Linked DNA regions of Homo sapiens: region 2 is linked to region 1. Evidence: fine-mapped expression QTL. A gene starts in region 1. The other region holds a variant in brackets. All regions are shown on one strand. Distances are from middle to middle.

What was found. PIP is the estimated chance that this variant, and not a neighbour inherited with it, causes the effect.
Region 2: its variant is fine-mapped to the expression of PAMR1 in damaged cartilage (Steinberg 2020, PIP 0.95).

The regions. Positions count from the first base shown.
Region 1 is chr11:35,522,021-35,530,357 of GRCh38, reverse strand. PAMR1 (peptidase domain containing associated with muscle regeneration 1) reads left to right here and starts at 4,742. Exons shown (of 11, transcript NM_001001991.3): 1 at 4,742-4,845. The coding sequence starts at 4,773.
Region 2 is chr11:35,589,323-35,597,659 of GRCh38, reverse strand. No RefSeq gene overlaps it. Among named protein-coding and RNA genes, the nearest start is that of FJX1, 25 kb to the left of the region's middle. The variant T/A (reference allele first, on the strand shown) is at 4,716.

The DNA of each region.
Region 1 (8,337 bases):
GCTGAGCCAGACCTGAGGCAGAACATGATTGCTCATTGTGTAGGTGAACAGCCGGGATTCATTAGGGCTGGAGACTTCCATGAAGGGGCCAGTTACAGCAGGCTCCAGTGGAAGGGCCCTTTGTCTTTTCCACAATCCTGCCCTTCTCCATCTCTGGCCTTGGCTGACTTGAACTTGGTGTTTTGCACAGCTGATGGAAACCAAACTTAATTACCAGAAGTCTGGGATGCCTCTTATAGGTTTGCAGACCAGTTCTACCTCTGGCCTGTTTCCTCTGGCTTTCCCAGTGTGTGGTTGCTGCTTAGCTGCTGATCTGCAGAAGTGATAGCTGGGAGATAGAGGGAACTGTAAGAATTCACAAAGACAGTCTCCTCTGCTGTTTCTCCCTGTGGATTCACATGCAACCAGCCTCCCTGGTGGCACTGAAAAAGGTACCATGTGAAAATTAGTGGGTATTATGACTTGTAATTAAATGGGTGGCCTGACTCTGTCTATTACAGCCAATTTTTTATTCCTGATGCTGATTATTAGTAGATAATTCTTAATTCCAGGTATCATGCCCTATCTCCCAGCATGCCACTTTGTCTTTTTCATACACAGCCTTTCTTGTGATTTATTCTCCCCGAAGCAAGCAGTGGTAGGAGGTGAGGGCAGAGGGGGAGATAAGCATCACAGAAACAGTTAACATTTACTGATATCTTAGTATATTTTAGGCACTGTTTTGAGCTCTTTACTCTAGCCCTAATGGCAACAGGTACTATTCTTCAGACTTAACAGATGAGGAAACCAAGGCCATCATATGTGAAATAACATGCCCAAGTGTACACAGGTAGCGAGTGGTCCATCTGCATTCAACATTAGTCAGTATGGTCCAGAGCAAGTGCTCTTAAGTCAGAAATAGTTTTTTAAAGGTGAGGAGGAGGTGAGAGGGCCCTCCAAATGTCCACTGTGCAGTTTATAGCCTAGACTCAATGATTGTATATATTCACAAAATCACTTTCCCCAAATCTGAGAAATATTTGGTCCATTTTTCAATTTTAACTTACGAAGATTAGTGATTCTAAAAAAGTTGGGAGTTTGCAAATGAGAAGGCTATGGCTCCCTCTTATTCAAAAACCTGCATGCAAAAATTTGCATATGATTTTGGAAGATTCAAAGTCCCTCAAAAAACCCCATCTCAACCAGGAGCTTCCAGATTAAGAATCCTTGATTTAGAACAATACTAAACTCTATCAATATGAAAAATGCAGTTGACCATAATGGGGACAGAGAAAGGTAAACTTGTGTAGGAAAACAGAAATTTGTGTAGGGCTGAATGTCCTCAGTAAACTACTGACTTTTCTGTGTCATAATAACAGTTCTCCTCTTTCTCTTCCAGCCCTGGGATTATTGTGCAGTTCAACAAGGTAATATCTGATTACTGCTTTGACTTCTCCAGAAAAATACATCCTCCACCTTTGCAGAGCATCTTTTTGAGAGTTTCTTTCCAGGTCCTCAGCTCTAGGAAATTTACAAACCCAAATTAGTGACAACAAACTAACAAATCAACTCTTGAAGGGGATTCCAGAAACAGAAGAAGGGCCTCTGTTTCCAGACCCCTGAACCTAGAGAAGTAAAGACCTGGTACCAGGGACTTCCTTAGCAAATAGCCAAACAGGTTTGTTGGGAAGGAAAAATAATCTTTCTTCCCTACCCATCTTAGATTCCTTGGCTGTGGCCCTGTAAATTAGAATGACAAAAAAAAGAAAAAACAGATTAACAAGAGAAAAACAAACAAAAGTTTTTTATTAACTTGTGCATGGTGCTTACATGTTGAAATACCTAGTGAGGAGTAACTCAAAGAGATGGTTAGAATTTGGGTTCATATTGCATTTTTAAAAAGAACAATAAATTTGCAGAGAAGTGGCAAGACAAACAAAAAGGACTTTGAGCTTCTAGGGGTAGCAAATTATGGGAAGATAAATAAATGGGGGTCCTAATGGGAGATAAGACTAGTTAGTAAGTTTTGGTATGTAGATTCCTCTGGGCTGATAAGGGTCTAGGGTTGTCTCCAATGATTAACTTCTGTCCGTCCTGGTAGAGAGGGGAGGTGGAGACACTATACTTTTATAAATTCAAGTCTGCTTTTAGGAAAATGGGGGGAGAACAGAGACCTATTCTTGTATCTACTTCTTCTTAACTGCTTTCAGCTCAAAATAATCCTTATGCCAAAGGGGCATATTTGGGGGTGGTATAGACTGCTATCCTTCAGGTTCATCACTTAGAGCCCCATTCTGTCAGGGGGATGCAATTCATGTAGGGATGAGGCTGCTTGGTATTGACTCAGAGAGGTGTGTGTGGTGGGGGCTGGGAGGTGGGGAGAGGGAAGATGAAAAGAAACCCCACGTGTCATGGGAAGGACCAGGTGGAGATAGTTGAATCATGGGGACAGTTACCCCCATAAAAGTTTTCATTTTGTTCTCTAGATGTTGGTGGGCCCTGGTGGTTTAGGAGTAAGGTGTGCTGAGCTCGAAGCAAAGTCTTGGGAAGAGAAGTCACCCTGGACTATTGATGAAGGCCTGGAGTAAAGATTAAGAAATGGAAGTGGAAGGGAAAAGATAAGGGGAGAAACCTGAGGAAGGTAGAATCTGTAAAGCTCAGGTGCCGTCAGCTGGAGTTGAAACAGACTCCTGAGAGGCTCTTATGCCTACAGTTATTTGGGAACTAAGTCATCTTCTTCCCACTCCCATCACCAAAGGACCAGGACTGGTTGGCCAGCAACAAGGTGAACCTCCCTTCTTCGAACCTCTGCCCTCTACCTCTTAGGTATATGCTGCCCTCTGGTATTCTGCTCCTGTTTAAGGCTACTCTTGGTGCTTATTTTAACTGATTTCATCTCGATATGGAAGTTGAGTGTAGGAACAAGACTCATACCATGAGATGTTCTTGGGGGCAGTCTCAGGTCAGATAATAGAGATAATGATTAATATTTAGTGTGCACTTAATATGTGGTAGGCTCTGTGCTATGGGCCTTACATGCGTAATCTTATTAAATTCTTCCAGTGATCTACAAAGTAGGTTTGATTATTATTTCCATTTTATAGATGAGAAGACTGAGATTCAGAGAGTTAACTTGCTTAAGGTCACACAGCCAGAAAGTGGTGAATCAACAAAATTAGAACACAGGCCTGCTGAGTTCTTGCTTCCAGTCACTTCACTGCAATAGGCCCCCAGAAGCAGGGCTGGAGTTCAGAAATTCTTTCTAGTAGAGCACCTGTGTCAGGGCTCCTGACCTTCTGATCTGTCCTGAGCTTTACAGATTCTACCTTCCTCAGGTTTCTCCCCTTATCTTTTCCCTTCCACTTCCATTTCTTAATCCTTACTCCAGGCCTTCATCAATAGTCCAGGGTGACTTCTCTTCCCGAGACTTTGCTTTGAGCTCAGCACACCCTACTTGTAAACCACCAGGGCCCGCCAACATCTAGAGAACAAAATTAAAACTTTTATGGGGGTAACTGTCCCCATGATTCAATTATCTCCACCTGGTCCCTCCCATGACACGTGGGGTTTATGGGAACCACAATTCAAGATGAGGTTTGGGTGGGGACACAGCGAAGCCATATCAAATGGTGAAATACAATTCTGCATATGTAGCATCCTAAGAAGCTCTATAGCCTAGTGGCTAAGACTATAGCCTGTGGGCCTAAGCTGCCCGGGTTCAAACCCTGGCTCTGCCCCTCACTAACTGTGTGGCCTTGGATGAGTTATTGTAATCCTCAATGGTTCCGTTTCTCTAATTGTAAAATACAGAGGCTAGGTTTATTGTGAGGAATAATTGAGTTAATACATGTAAGGTACATGACACCTGGCACGGAGGAGTTTATTTTAAAAAGTCACCTATTATGAAACATCCTTCTTCCTCATTTCGAGATGTCACTTGCTATCTTGTACCTAAACTGAGCCCTTTTGGTGGAGGCAGTGAGGGTTCTTGTGTGTTCTTCGCCATCCCTGCCTGGCGTGTGCGCAGGAGCTATTTATGTTGCTGAATTCACCATCGTGGGGATCACAGGAAGAGGAAAACTTTTTCCAGTAGCTCAGGAGCTGCTTATGTCGCTGAATTCACCATGACGGGGATCATAGGAAGAGGAAAACTTTTTCCAGTAGCCTGTAGTTGCAAAAGATAATAAGCTTTCCAACCTGTGATCACCTGGAGCAAACGGAGAGGAAAGGAGATAAACGAGGAGTGTTGCGTGCGGAGTGGAGGGAGGCTCCCTTTCTCCTCCCATCACCAACTCCTCCTTCTCCTCAGGCCAGGCTTTTAATCAGGCTCCCCGCGTGCAGTCAGAGAGGGCAAAGCCAGCTCCCGTCTCAGCCTCCCGTAGGAAGATCTCCCGGCCTCACCTGAGCGCCCCGCAGCCCTGGGTACCTCTGCTCCCGCCCAGGGTCCTATGGCCCCTCCTCCCAGCACCCAACACTGGGACCCCACCTGTACCCAGGCTGGCCTCCCTCCCCCGCAGCTTCCTTTGCAGCCGCCGTCCGCGGGTCTCCAGGCGTGGCCACACCTCCCGGGGCCCCGCAAGGGTTAAGGCAGCAGAGAGGAGAGGTTTGGGCTGACGTCGCTCTGGCTGAAGGTGGTTCCCCTCAGATGAGGATGGGAGAGCCTGGCGAGCTGAAACCCGAGCTCCCGCTCAGCTGGGGCTCGGGGAGGTCCCTGTAAAACCCGCCTGCCCCCGGCCTCCCTGGGTCCCTCCTCTCCCTCCCCAGTAGACGCTCGGGCACCAGCCGCGGCAAGGATGGAGCTGGGTTGCTGGACGCAGTTGGGGCTCACTTTTCTTCAGCTCCTTCTCATCTCGTCCTTGCCAAGAGGTACTGTGAGTAGCGTCCGGGACACCCTAGGAGGACACCCTAGGAGGGAGCATTTTCCTCCTGGGGTCTGCCTGGGAGCAGGACTGGGAGTCTCAGGAGGTGGGCTGTGTGTGTTTGGGGTGAGGGGTTGAGGGGGGGTGGTGCTTTTCCAGTGATAATTTTAGGGACTTGGCTGGTGGTGCTGGAGCTCCTGTGGCCCTCCCTGAGACTGTGACGTGGTTTTGTCATCCCAAATCGTGGGGCTGTACTGTCTCAGGAAAGCGGACCAGCTCCTATTTTATTTGCTCTTTTTATCATTTTAAAAGTACCAAATTGCCTTAGGGAATCAATTCTGAGTTACCCGCTCTGACTTGCAAAAGCGAAGTTTCTCTTGGAAAGGGCTCCCTCAGAGGTGAGCAAGAAAGAAAGAAGAGAGGGAAAGAAAGAAAGGAATAAAGAGCAGGGCTTGCTTGGTGTTCTTCTGGTGAATCTTGCTTCACGAACTCCTACAGCCATACCCCTTCGGAGTAGATCCAAGCACAGGAGATTGACTCACTCAGCATATATAGACACACTTCCTTTCTGATGAGAGTGAGAAAGAAGAAAAAGCCAAGGTTAAAAGTGCAGATTGTTTCTGGGATGCATAGGGTTTGTTTTGAAAGAGCTCTGGCTTCTTTGGTTTTCATATATCATTTTCTAAGCCACAATCCCCAGGTCAAATGGGCTTCTGGGGACAAATGAGGCTGGGACATGATACGGAGATCCAGCTAAGGGCAGAAGCGAGGACATGGCAGATCCTGCTTGCTGGCAGGCGGGGAAGTGGGAACGTCATAGGAACATCTGTCCTTCTATGGCCCAGGGGGTAAAGTGAGACCTCATGAGATGAGGGCAGGCCGAGATGTACAGAAATGACCAAACGGGGCAGCTCTGAATAGGGGCAGGTTATGTACGAGCCTTCGCTGCTTCCCTTCTGTGCTGGTTACCTGTCACCTGAACTCTATCTGAGAGCTGGGTGCTCTGCCGCTGCAAGTAGCTGGCAAGTGCCTGAGAATGAAACAGGCCAGGTCGGGTGGGGAGGATACTAAATGCAATAACCTGTGTAGAAGGGAAACTTAGCCATAGGCACATCCCTTCATGATCAACGAAAAGCTGAGATACACAAACCCCCCTGCCCTTCATTTTGGTCAATACTTTCCATCTACCTAGAGCCTGCCTGCCCAGGTAGGATCTTCCTTAATGATTTACAATAAAGATGGTGAGTGTTTCATTTGAATTTTGCCTCCATGGTGTCTGGAGCAGCCCAAAGACAATAATAAAGGAAGAAGGAGCCCTTCATAAGGGCTGACAATCCATAAACCTAAACACTTGCCTAGGGGTAAGTGGGTGACTTTGCATTAAGGCACCTCCCTACTTCATCTTCGCCTTTGCATGGTGTCGGTGGACCAGCTCCAGAGGACCTGGTTCTTCTCAGAGTGCCAGGGCTCAGTGGATTTGATTCCTCAGGGTTACATCAGCGTTCCCCTGCTTCCTGTTTTATTACATGGCAGGTGAGGCGCTTCAAAGCCATAAAAGTTTAAAAGAAAATAAAAAAACCTGAGCTGGCTCTTTTTCCTAGCCCAGAATCTGAAAAATCCATTTATTTCTGACCCGAGAACCTCTTTTACCTTTGGCTGTGAAAAAGCTTCAGAGAGGATACGCAGTTTGTTGGTAGCTAAACTGCTGCCTGAACCAGAGCGCAGCTTCATGTGTTTAGCAAGGATATTTTAGTTGTTGAATGTTTTACTCACATTTCGAGGGAAGACGGAGGAATAGCGTGGAGAAGGAAAATATTTCCTCAAGGAGTGAAGGAAGTCCACTCCCTGCTGGGATGCTGAATCTGGCCCCAGGCAAGAAAAGCTTGGAAGCGTATTTCCTCTAATTAACTTTTCTAAAAAGAGTATTTGCTGAATTGTAAACATCCACTGGGATGGTACCAGAGAGTGTTGTTTCTCACTGGCATGTGACACATGTTGGGAGGATGAGAATCCAAACATGAGGCCAAGCGATAACCCAACATAAACAGAATGAGGGGAGAAACCCAACTCCACTGACTTCACCAAATTGCGGTAGCTCTGCCAGTGTGATTCTGCCGAAGAGGAAAACCTCATTTAAAATATGGGACTCTTGGGAATGAAAACTTAATCTGGAGAACTTCACAAGTGTTGCTTCCAACAGACATTAACTTGTGGGGAATGAACATAAATGCAACCAGGGAAGATAATTTGAAGTGCAGATATTCAGTGGGCAGGAAAAGCCAGCCGAGAAAGGAAACATGGAAAGAAAGCAAGGGAGAAGGAGTGGCAAGAAAAATGAGATGTGAGATTACACTGGGATATGTTGGCAAATTCCTAGGAGAAAGCTAGGAAAATTGGGCCTTCTTGGCACGGGTGGATTTTTGCGGGGATCATGAAGAGGGTGTTCCCCTAATATACAATCTGAGAGCTCCTGGCATCCCCAACAGGAAAATAATTTAATGATGGGATCATGGAGTTTAGGAGCTGAGAGTGACTTTAGAAATTATTTTAGTATGAGTCCCTCAATTCAGAGGATGAAGAGATTAAACATCAAGCAAACATTTAGTGAACATTTATTAATGTGTCCAGTCTTTGAGCCAAAGGCTTCATATGCATTAATTCTCAGACCACCCTGAAATGGCATTGCTGTTATTATCCGTGTTTTACAGATGAGGTTCAGAGAGGTTCTATGATACACAGAGGTTTAAGGATATACAAGTATGGTTCCCCCAAAAATTGAACATAGAATTACCATTTGATTTAGCAATTCAATTTCTGGGTGTATACACAAAAGAATTGAAAGCAGGGACTTGATTAGATATGTTTACATCAATGTTCATAGCAGCATTATTCCCAATAGCCAAAAGGTGGAAACAACCCGAATGTCCATTGATAAACAAGATACAGTATACACCTACGACGGAATATTATTCAGCCTTAAAAATAAAGGATATTCTGATACGTGCTATAACACAGATGAACCTTAAGACCTTATGCTAAGTGAAAGAAGCCAGACACAAAAAGACAAATGTTCTGTGATGCCACTTATATGAGGTACTTAGAATAGTCAAATTCATGTAGACAGAAAGTAGGGTGGTAATTGCCAGGGCCCAGGAGAAGATGGAATGGGAGTTATTATTTGATGGGTACAGAGTTTCAATGTGGAATAGCAAAAAGTTCTGGAGATAGATGGTGGTGATGGTTGCACAATAGTATGAATGTACTTATGCCACTGAACCATGCACTTAAAAACGATTTGAGGCAGGCGCAGTGGCTCATGCCTATAATCCCAGCACTTTGGGAGGCCAGGGCGGGCAGATCACGAGGTCAGGAGATCGAGGCCATCCTGGCTAACACAGTGAAACCCTGTCTCTACTAAAAATACAAAAAATTAGCTGGGCGTGGTGGCAGGCGCCTGTAGTCCCAGCTACTCGGGAGGCTGAGGCAGGAGAATGGTGTG
Region 2 (8,337 bases), 67 kb before region 1:
ATGACTTCTTTTCCTTTGGGTAGATACCCAGTCATGGGATTGCTGGATCAAAGAGTAGTTCTATTTTTAGTTCTTTAAGGAATCTCCACATTGTTTTCCACAGTGGTTGTACTAGTTTACATTCCCATCAGCAGTGTTGCTGAAACCCCATCTCTACTAAAAATACAAAAATTAACCCCGTGTGGTGGTGGGTGCCTGTAGTCCCAGCTACTTGGGAGGCTGAGACAGGAGAATTGCTTAAACCCAGGAGGCGGAGGTTGCAGTGAGCCAACACTGCACCATTGCCCTCCAGCCTGGGCAACAAGAGCAAAACTCTGTTTAAAAAAAAGAAATAAAAAAAAAAGAAGTGTTACCTTTTCGCAGCATCCACGCCAACATCTATTGTTGTTTAATTTTTTGATTATGGTCCTTCTTGCAGGAGTAAGGTGGTATTTCGTTGTGATTTTGATTTGCATTTCCCTGATCATTAGTGATGCTGAGCATTTTTTCATATGTTTGTTGGCCATTTGCATATCTTCTTTTGAGAATTGTCCATTCATGTCCTTAGCCCACTTTTTGATGGGATTGTTTGTTTGTTTTTTCTTGCTGATTTGTTTGAGTTCCTCGTAGATTCCTCGTAAAATTCCTGTAGAGTCTTTTGTCAGATGTATAGATTGTGAAGATTTTCTCCCACTCTGTGGGTTGTCTGTTTACTCTGCTGACTGTTTCTTTTACTGTGCAAAAGCTCTTTAATTAAGCCCCACCTATTTATTTTTGTTTTTGTTGCATTTGCTTTTGGGTTCCTGGTCATGAAATCTTTGCCTAAGCCAATGTCTAAAAGGGGTTTTCTGGAATTTTTACTGTTTCAGGTCTTAGATTTAAGTCCTTGATCCATCTTGAATTGATTTTTGTGTAAGGTGAGATATGAAGATCCAGTTTCATTTTCCTACATGTGGCTTGCCAATTATCCCAGCACCACACTGAACAGACAAATAACAAGCAGTGAGGTTGAAATGGTGATTTAAAAAATTGCCAAAAACAGAGTCCAGGACCAGATAGATTCACAGCTGAATTTTACCAAACATTCAGAGAAGACTTGGTACCAATCCTGTTGACACTATTCCACAAGATAAAGAGGTAATCCTCCCTAAATCACTCTATGAAGTCAGTATCACCCTAATACCCAAACCAGGAAAGGACATAACAAAAAAAAGAAACTATAGACCAATATTCCTGATGAACATAGATGCAAAAATACTTAGCAAAATACCTGCTAACCGAATCCAACAGCATACAAAAAAGATAATCTACGATGATCAAATGGGTTTCATACCAGGGTTGCAGGGATGGTTTAACATGCGCAAGTCAATGAATGTGATACACCACATAAACAGAATTAAAAACAAAAATCACATGATCATCTCAATAGATGCAGAGAAAGCACTTGACAAAATCCAGCATTCCTTTATGATTAAAACCCTCAGCAACATCGACATACAAGGGACATACCTCAACGTAATAAAAGCCATCTGTGACAACCCCACAGCCACCATAATACTGAATGGGGAAAAGTTGAAAGCATTCCCTCTGAAAAGTGAAACAAGACTGGGTGCCCGCTCTGACCACTTCTATCCAACATAGTACTGAAAGTCCTAGCCAGAGCAATCAGACAAGGGAAAGAAATAAAGGGCATCCAAATCAGTAAAGAGGAAGTCAAACTGTACACTGTTTGCTGATGATATGATTGTATACTTAGAAAACACTAAAGACTCCTCCAAAAAGCTCTTAGAACTGATAAATGAATTCAGCAAAGCTTCAGGATACATGCTTAATGTACACAAATCAGTTGCTCTGCTATACACCAACAGTGGCTAAGCTGAGAATCAAATCAAGAACTCAACCTCTTTTACAGTAGTTGCAAAAAAATAAATAAGTAAAATACTTAGGACTATACTTAACTGAGGAGGTAAAAGACCTCTACAAGGACAACTACAAAACGCTGCTGAAAGAAATCACAGATGACACAAACAAATGAAAACATATTCCATGCTCATAGATGGGTAGAATCAATACTGTGAAAATGACCTTACTGCTAAAAGCCATCTACAAATTCAATGCAATTTCCCTCAAAATACCACCATCATTCTTCACAGAACTGGAAAAAAAAAATCCTAAAATTCACATGGAAACAAAAAAGAGCCTGCATAGCCAAAGCAAGACTAAGTAAAAAGAAAAAGTCTGGAGGCATCACATTACCAGATTTCAAACTATATTATAAGGCTATATCACCAAAACAGCACGGTACTGGTATAAAAATAGGCACATAGACCAATGGAACAGAATAGAGAACTCAGAAATAAACCCAAATACTTATAGCCAACTAATCTTCAACAAAGCAAACAAAAACATAGAGTAGGGAAAGGACACTCTCACTTTTTAAAGGTATGGGGCCTAGAGTGAATGAATGCACATCACATTTGTAGGGATGACCCTTTGTGTCTTGTACCGTTTAACAGATATGCATGCACCTTTGTGGGACAAATTGTTCTTTTTTTAAGTCATCTTTTTAGCATTCAATTACAAGAAGAAAATGGCCAAGCAGGCAGAAGAGTTCTGTATTATTTAATCCATCCATCTCCTTCTCTGGCTTCTGGCAAGGGAGGCTGCTGTACTACTTCTTTCCCACCACTCAGTAGACCGATGGAAACAGGAAGTTGAGTGCTCTCCCTGCCGTTGCCTTCAGAAATCTTGTAGCATCTGACAGATTGAGACACATTGCTTCTCTCTCAATGAGGCCTGCATTGGTGACAGTCTCCAGGCAACATGATTGAGAGGGAAGCTGGACAGTCTGTCAACTTGGCCTTCACAGGGCTATTAGAGTGAAGCAAGAGATAAAATGTATTTTGTTTTCAACAAGGTTCCATGTCTGTCTTATATTATCAACTCCAAAACATACCATGAAATATGACTTCTTATTATCCCTACTTTTAGAGCACTTAGAAACTGTTAGGCGAGGTGGAAGTAAAGAACTGGGTGTAACTGGCTGCAGCAGCTTATGCTTGTAATCCCAGCACCTTGGGCGGCTGAGGCAAGAGGATTGCTTGCGTCCAGGAGTTCAAGACCAGCCTGGGCAACATAGTGAAATTCTGTCTCTACAAAAAATAAAAAACTAGCTAGGCATAGTGGCGCATGCCTGGAGTGCCAGCTACTTGGGAAGCTGAGGTGGGAGGATCCCATGAGTCCTGGAGGTTGAGGTTGCAGTGAGCTGTGATCGCACCACTGCACTCAGCCTGGGTGACAGAACGAGAGACCCTGTCTAAAAAAAAAAAAAAGAACTGAGCGTTAATTTTTCCTGAGTAGTATGATGCTACTCTTTCTGAGATCACTATTTGTGGTAGATAAGATAATGCCCTCACACCCCAAAGTTATGAATTCTGCTGCTATCGTGTATGCTAATGCCTTCCATAGGCACTAGAAAGGCACTTTAACCATTGACCATTATTTAAGGATCCATTGAAAAGTAGAGTATATGTTTCCTATTGCTGATGCCCTGACCTAATCCCTGGAACCTGTGAATATGTTATGTTATATGGCAAAGGGAAATGCAGGTTGGAGACGAAATTAAGGTTGTTAATCGGCTGACTTTAAAATAGAGAGAGCATCCTGGATTATCCAGATGGGATCAATGTAATCACAAGGGTCCTTAAATGTGGAAAAGGAAGGTAGAAAAGTCAGAGTGGCTGAGAAAGACTCAGCTGGCCATTGCTGGCTTTGAAGATGGAAGAGTGTCATAAGTCAAGGGATATATGGAGCCTCTGGCAGCTGGAAATCACAAGAGAAAGGATTTACCCCCAGAGCCTCCAGAAGGAAGCAAGGTGTCCTTGCTGACACCTTGATGTTAGCCCAGTGAACCCATTTCAGACTTCTGACCTCTAGAAATATAACATAATCAATTTGTTTCATTTTAAGCCGCCAAGTTTGTGGCAATCTGTTATGGCAGCAATAGGAAACATATACTCTACTTTTCAATGGATCCTTGAATAATGGTCAATGGTTAAAGTGCCTTTCTAGTGCCTATGGAAGGCATTGGCATACACGACAGCAGTAGAATTCGTAACTCTTGAGTGGGGATATTACCCCATGCCTCATATTCTGTAGAAAACAATATTAAAGCTACATTGCTTGTCTAGCCTTATACCAGAGGGACTTATCTGACTGGTGTGGCCTGGTGATTTGGGCAGGGTTCAGCTGAGATTGTTCATTTCCATTCTCTGTGGTGTTTGTTGGGTTCACTCACATATTTGTGGTCACTTGGCATGTTGATTGGTGTTGCCTGATCCTGGATGATGTAATTTACAGGCCTAGCAGTTGGCTGAAGTGTCAGCTGGGGCACTTTGGTTTTTATCCACATGGCCATTCCACTGGTTTAGCTAGCCTGGGCTTCTTCACTTGGTAGGTGAATTTTGAGAAAGAATGCAGAGGTTGCTTGACTTAGACCTTGGCTCAGAAATTGCTTAACATCATTCTGCTTCTTTCCATTGGCCAAGGCAAGTGATGGGAACAGTAGCAACCCCACATTGCCGGGGGCATATATACAGGGATGGGAGGCATTTGTAGCTATATATATATATATATATATATATATATATATATATATATATATAAAATATAAATATTTTTTATCTAAATATATAAATATAAATATTTATATATATATATTACATATATATATATAT[T/A]TTTTTTTTTTTTTGCTGTTGGTGCTGTTGTTGTTTTGAGATGGAGTCTTGCTCTGTCACCCTGGCGGGAGTGCAGTGGTGCGATCTTGGCTCACTGCAACCTCTGTCCCCCCGGTTCAAGCGATTTTCCTGCCTCAGGCTCCTGAGTAGCTGGGATTACAGGCATGCATCACCATGCCCAGCTAATTTTTGTATTTTTAGTAGAAATGGGGTTTCACCATGTTGGTCAGGCTGGTCTCAAACTCCTGACCTCATGATCCACCTGCCTTGGCCTCCCAAAGTGCTGGGATTACAGGCGTGAGCCACCGTGCCTGGCCAGCAATGGTTTTTTAAGTGTTATACTCTCTGTGGCTCCCTTTCTTAGGTTAGATGGCCTGAAGCTGGTATAGGTTCTTCCTTCTGTTCCTGCCTCTTTCATGTGGTGAGTCTGCCAAGGCAAGCTCTGCCCTCAAGAGGAAAGGCTTCCAGTTGTTTAGCTGCTGTGGCCATGAAAAGGTGGCTAAGTATAACTCAGTATGGAATAGAAAACTCATTCAGATCACAGGGACAGTTTCCATTCACCAGACCAGGTAGCCAGTATTACCACTATTATTAGGACCTCTGATTCCTTTGTATACTTCTCAATTGCTTCAGAACGTGGAAGACAGAAAGGCACGATTAAGTAATACCTCAAGAACTTAGCAAAAACCACCTGAAGGATACAGAGAAATAACCAGTGACAAGAAGGGAAAAGTTCAGGAAGGACAAAACTGGGACGTTATTCTAAAAGTGAAGGTACACATTCTACCAATATAAATGATGAAATAGGATGCACAAGGAAAATGGTCTTTGCCATCCTTATGGACTAACTGTAATATGTCCAATAATTAGGATGTTTAAAATATGTTGACAAAATTCTGGAAAGCATTGGCTGGTTTTGCATTTACATTCTGGTGAAGTCATTTTCTCCCTGTAACTGATATTTGGACAGTTCTCCTGAGACAGCAATGGGGCATAATATAAACTGTCATATAATCATTTAGACATTTCAATTCTCTCTATGTCTTCTTTTTGTCGACAACCTAAAGGAATATATATTGCACATACACATAAACAGACGTGTTTTCACTATTGTTGTGGATGCAATTGATAATGGAAACAAGAAATGAAGGGTCTCTGAAGAAGAGTGAGATTTTTTCAGTTCAGTCCAGTTAGTGAAGTCCAGTTCAGTTCTGAACTTAATCCAGAAGTTGTTATTTTTCCGCAAAAATGACAGTGAAAAATCAGAGGGTTACATGGGAGCTCTCATTTTGCAGCTGCAGAAGCAACAGCAGCAGCATGGAGAGAAGGCATTGGTGTGTGGCCACACGCAGCTTTGGGGTAAGAGCAGGCAATAAGGAAGCAGTGCATTATAATGGAAGGAGCATGGGCTTTGGTTAAAGATAGACCCATGTTTTTGACTCCTGCCTTTGCAAATTACTCACTTTCTAACCTTTCCTGTTTTCATTTCTTCTGTAAAATGGGGCTGATTGCCCTCATCTCATGACTATTGTAAGGATTAAATAAGATATATTTCAAATGTCTACTACTGTGCCTTGCACATTGTAGGCACACAAGAGTGATGACCATACAGAAATGAAATTTGCAGAATTCGTGGGGGGAATTGTGATTCAAGTCCTTGCATGGGTCTGAGCAGTAGCTAGTAAGAACAGAAGTAGCTAGGGTGGTAGAGATAGATAGATAGATAGATAGATAGATAGATAGATAGATAGATAGATAGATTGTAGAAAGCTCCATGTTTTTAGGGATGCATTTTTAGCAAGTACATTATAAGAGATAGTATTAGAACTAACTTTTCACTTTCAGATAATTCTCAAGAAATAATAGGTCTGGTTGGAAAAGCCATGGACTAGTGTGACAGGTCTAAGGGGATAAAAGAGTAATATAAGATGACAACAGAATAGGCAGAACCGGACCACACTTGGACACAGAGAGCTCTCCAAGCTGATTTTGAGCTGTGTCATACCTATGGCAGAGGCAGTATTGGTTCCCATGGGCTACCCTCCAATCTTTCCTCTTGTCGACTTGGCAAGCCTGGGACCTCTTCTGAAAACCTCAGCTCTAACAACTCCTAAAGTGTCTCAGTGTAACAGGTAAGGAAACTGACAAAAGCAGGGACAAGGGCACACTCTCCCTGTTGAGCCCCTCAGTTGGTTTAGCAACCAGGGAGAGGCCACTCCCTGGCTTAGCTCTTTCATCCATAAGCTAGGATCCCTGGTGCCTCTCCCAGTTCTTTCTGCAACCTGCTATAGCATCAGGAGGAGGGAGGGACTCAAGCCATCTTTCTGCAACTCAATGCTCATATTTCTGGCTTGTTATCACAGTGATGTATCCTTAGGGACAGTGAGTCACATCCTAGAAGTAGCTGGCATCCTTGGAGCCATCCCTGACTTTCTCTCTCCCAGCAGGGTGGGAGAAGAGCACCTCTCCTTCCAAGGCATGGAGGCAAGAAAGTCTTCCCCTTCTCAATCCTCTGTTATGGCTAAGCTTTACACACTAGAGTTCAGGTGTGCAAAACCAGAAAGGAGCTTCTTTTGTTTTAGTAATGGATTGTCTTCTGCTCTGAAGCCCCCATAGAAGTAGGGGGAAAAACACAAATAAAAATAGACATGCCAATAAAAGAGAACCCAGTCTCTTCCAGTTCAAAATAGTTCCCTTTGGGCAAATATTCTGAAGTGGTTCCTACCAAGTCTGTTTCTCTCTTTTCAAGAAGTTGCTTTCTACTCTTTTTCAAGATGGCACCTGAAGTGGAGGGAAGCAGAGCCTTAAATATCCTCACAGCAGAGAGGAGGAGTTCTGCACCTGTGTGTGGTCCTCTGGGCTGCTGTTCTCTGGGCCCCAGCTTCTGGCCTTAATAGCCTTCCTTGCCTCAATGTGAAGCCTGGTGGACCTGGTGAATGTTCTCTCAGCCCATGGAATACAACTTCAGCCATCTTCTGCTGCTGACTCCAGCCACCTGAGATTTTGCTGGTGATACTGGTCCTTTGAGACATGGTCACAAGCTCCTTGAGACCCCCAGACCTGGCCAGACCTCCCTGTGGCTTCTGCTACAGGGTTTCCCCATCTTGTGTCTCAGTGAGCACTTGCAGGCAGGCTTCTCAATTCTTAATTCTTCTTTACTTTCGCCATCCCTTTTATTGGTCCCTGAGAACTTTCCAGATCTTCTTTGTGCTCTGCTGAAGCCAAGAGAGAGCTAGGGTGGGCTAGAATGAGGCTATCTCAGGCCCTGGCTATACAGGCACCCACTTCTGCCCATGCTGCCCATTAGTACCCAAACCTGATGTACACGGCACCCTTTGGAAATGCAGACTTTTCCCACAGGCTGTGGCTCTCCCAGGCTGTACCTGGGGAAGCAGAGCACCAGCCATGGTCTTGCTAGGTTTCTCCAAAGTTTCCTTAAGTTCCTAGCGCATGCGCACACCCAGCCCAGCCAGGGGTTTTGATTTGGTTGTGGGAGGGAATTCAGGACACTGTCACACTTGCCCATCCTCTCTTCAGCCCTCTTCTCAGCTCCTCCCTCCACGGAAAGCACCTTCTATCTTCCCCTTCTCTCCAGCAAGAACTGTCCTCATATCCTCCTTCT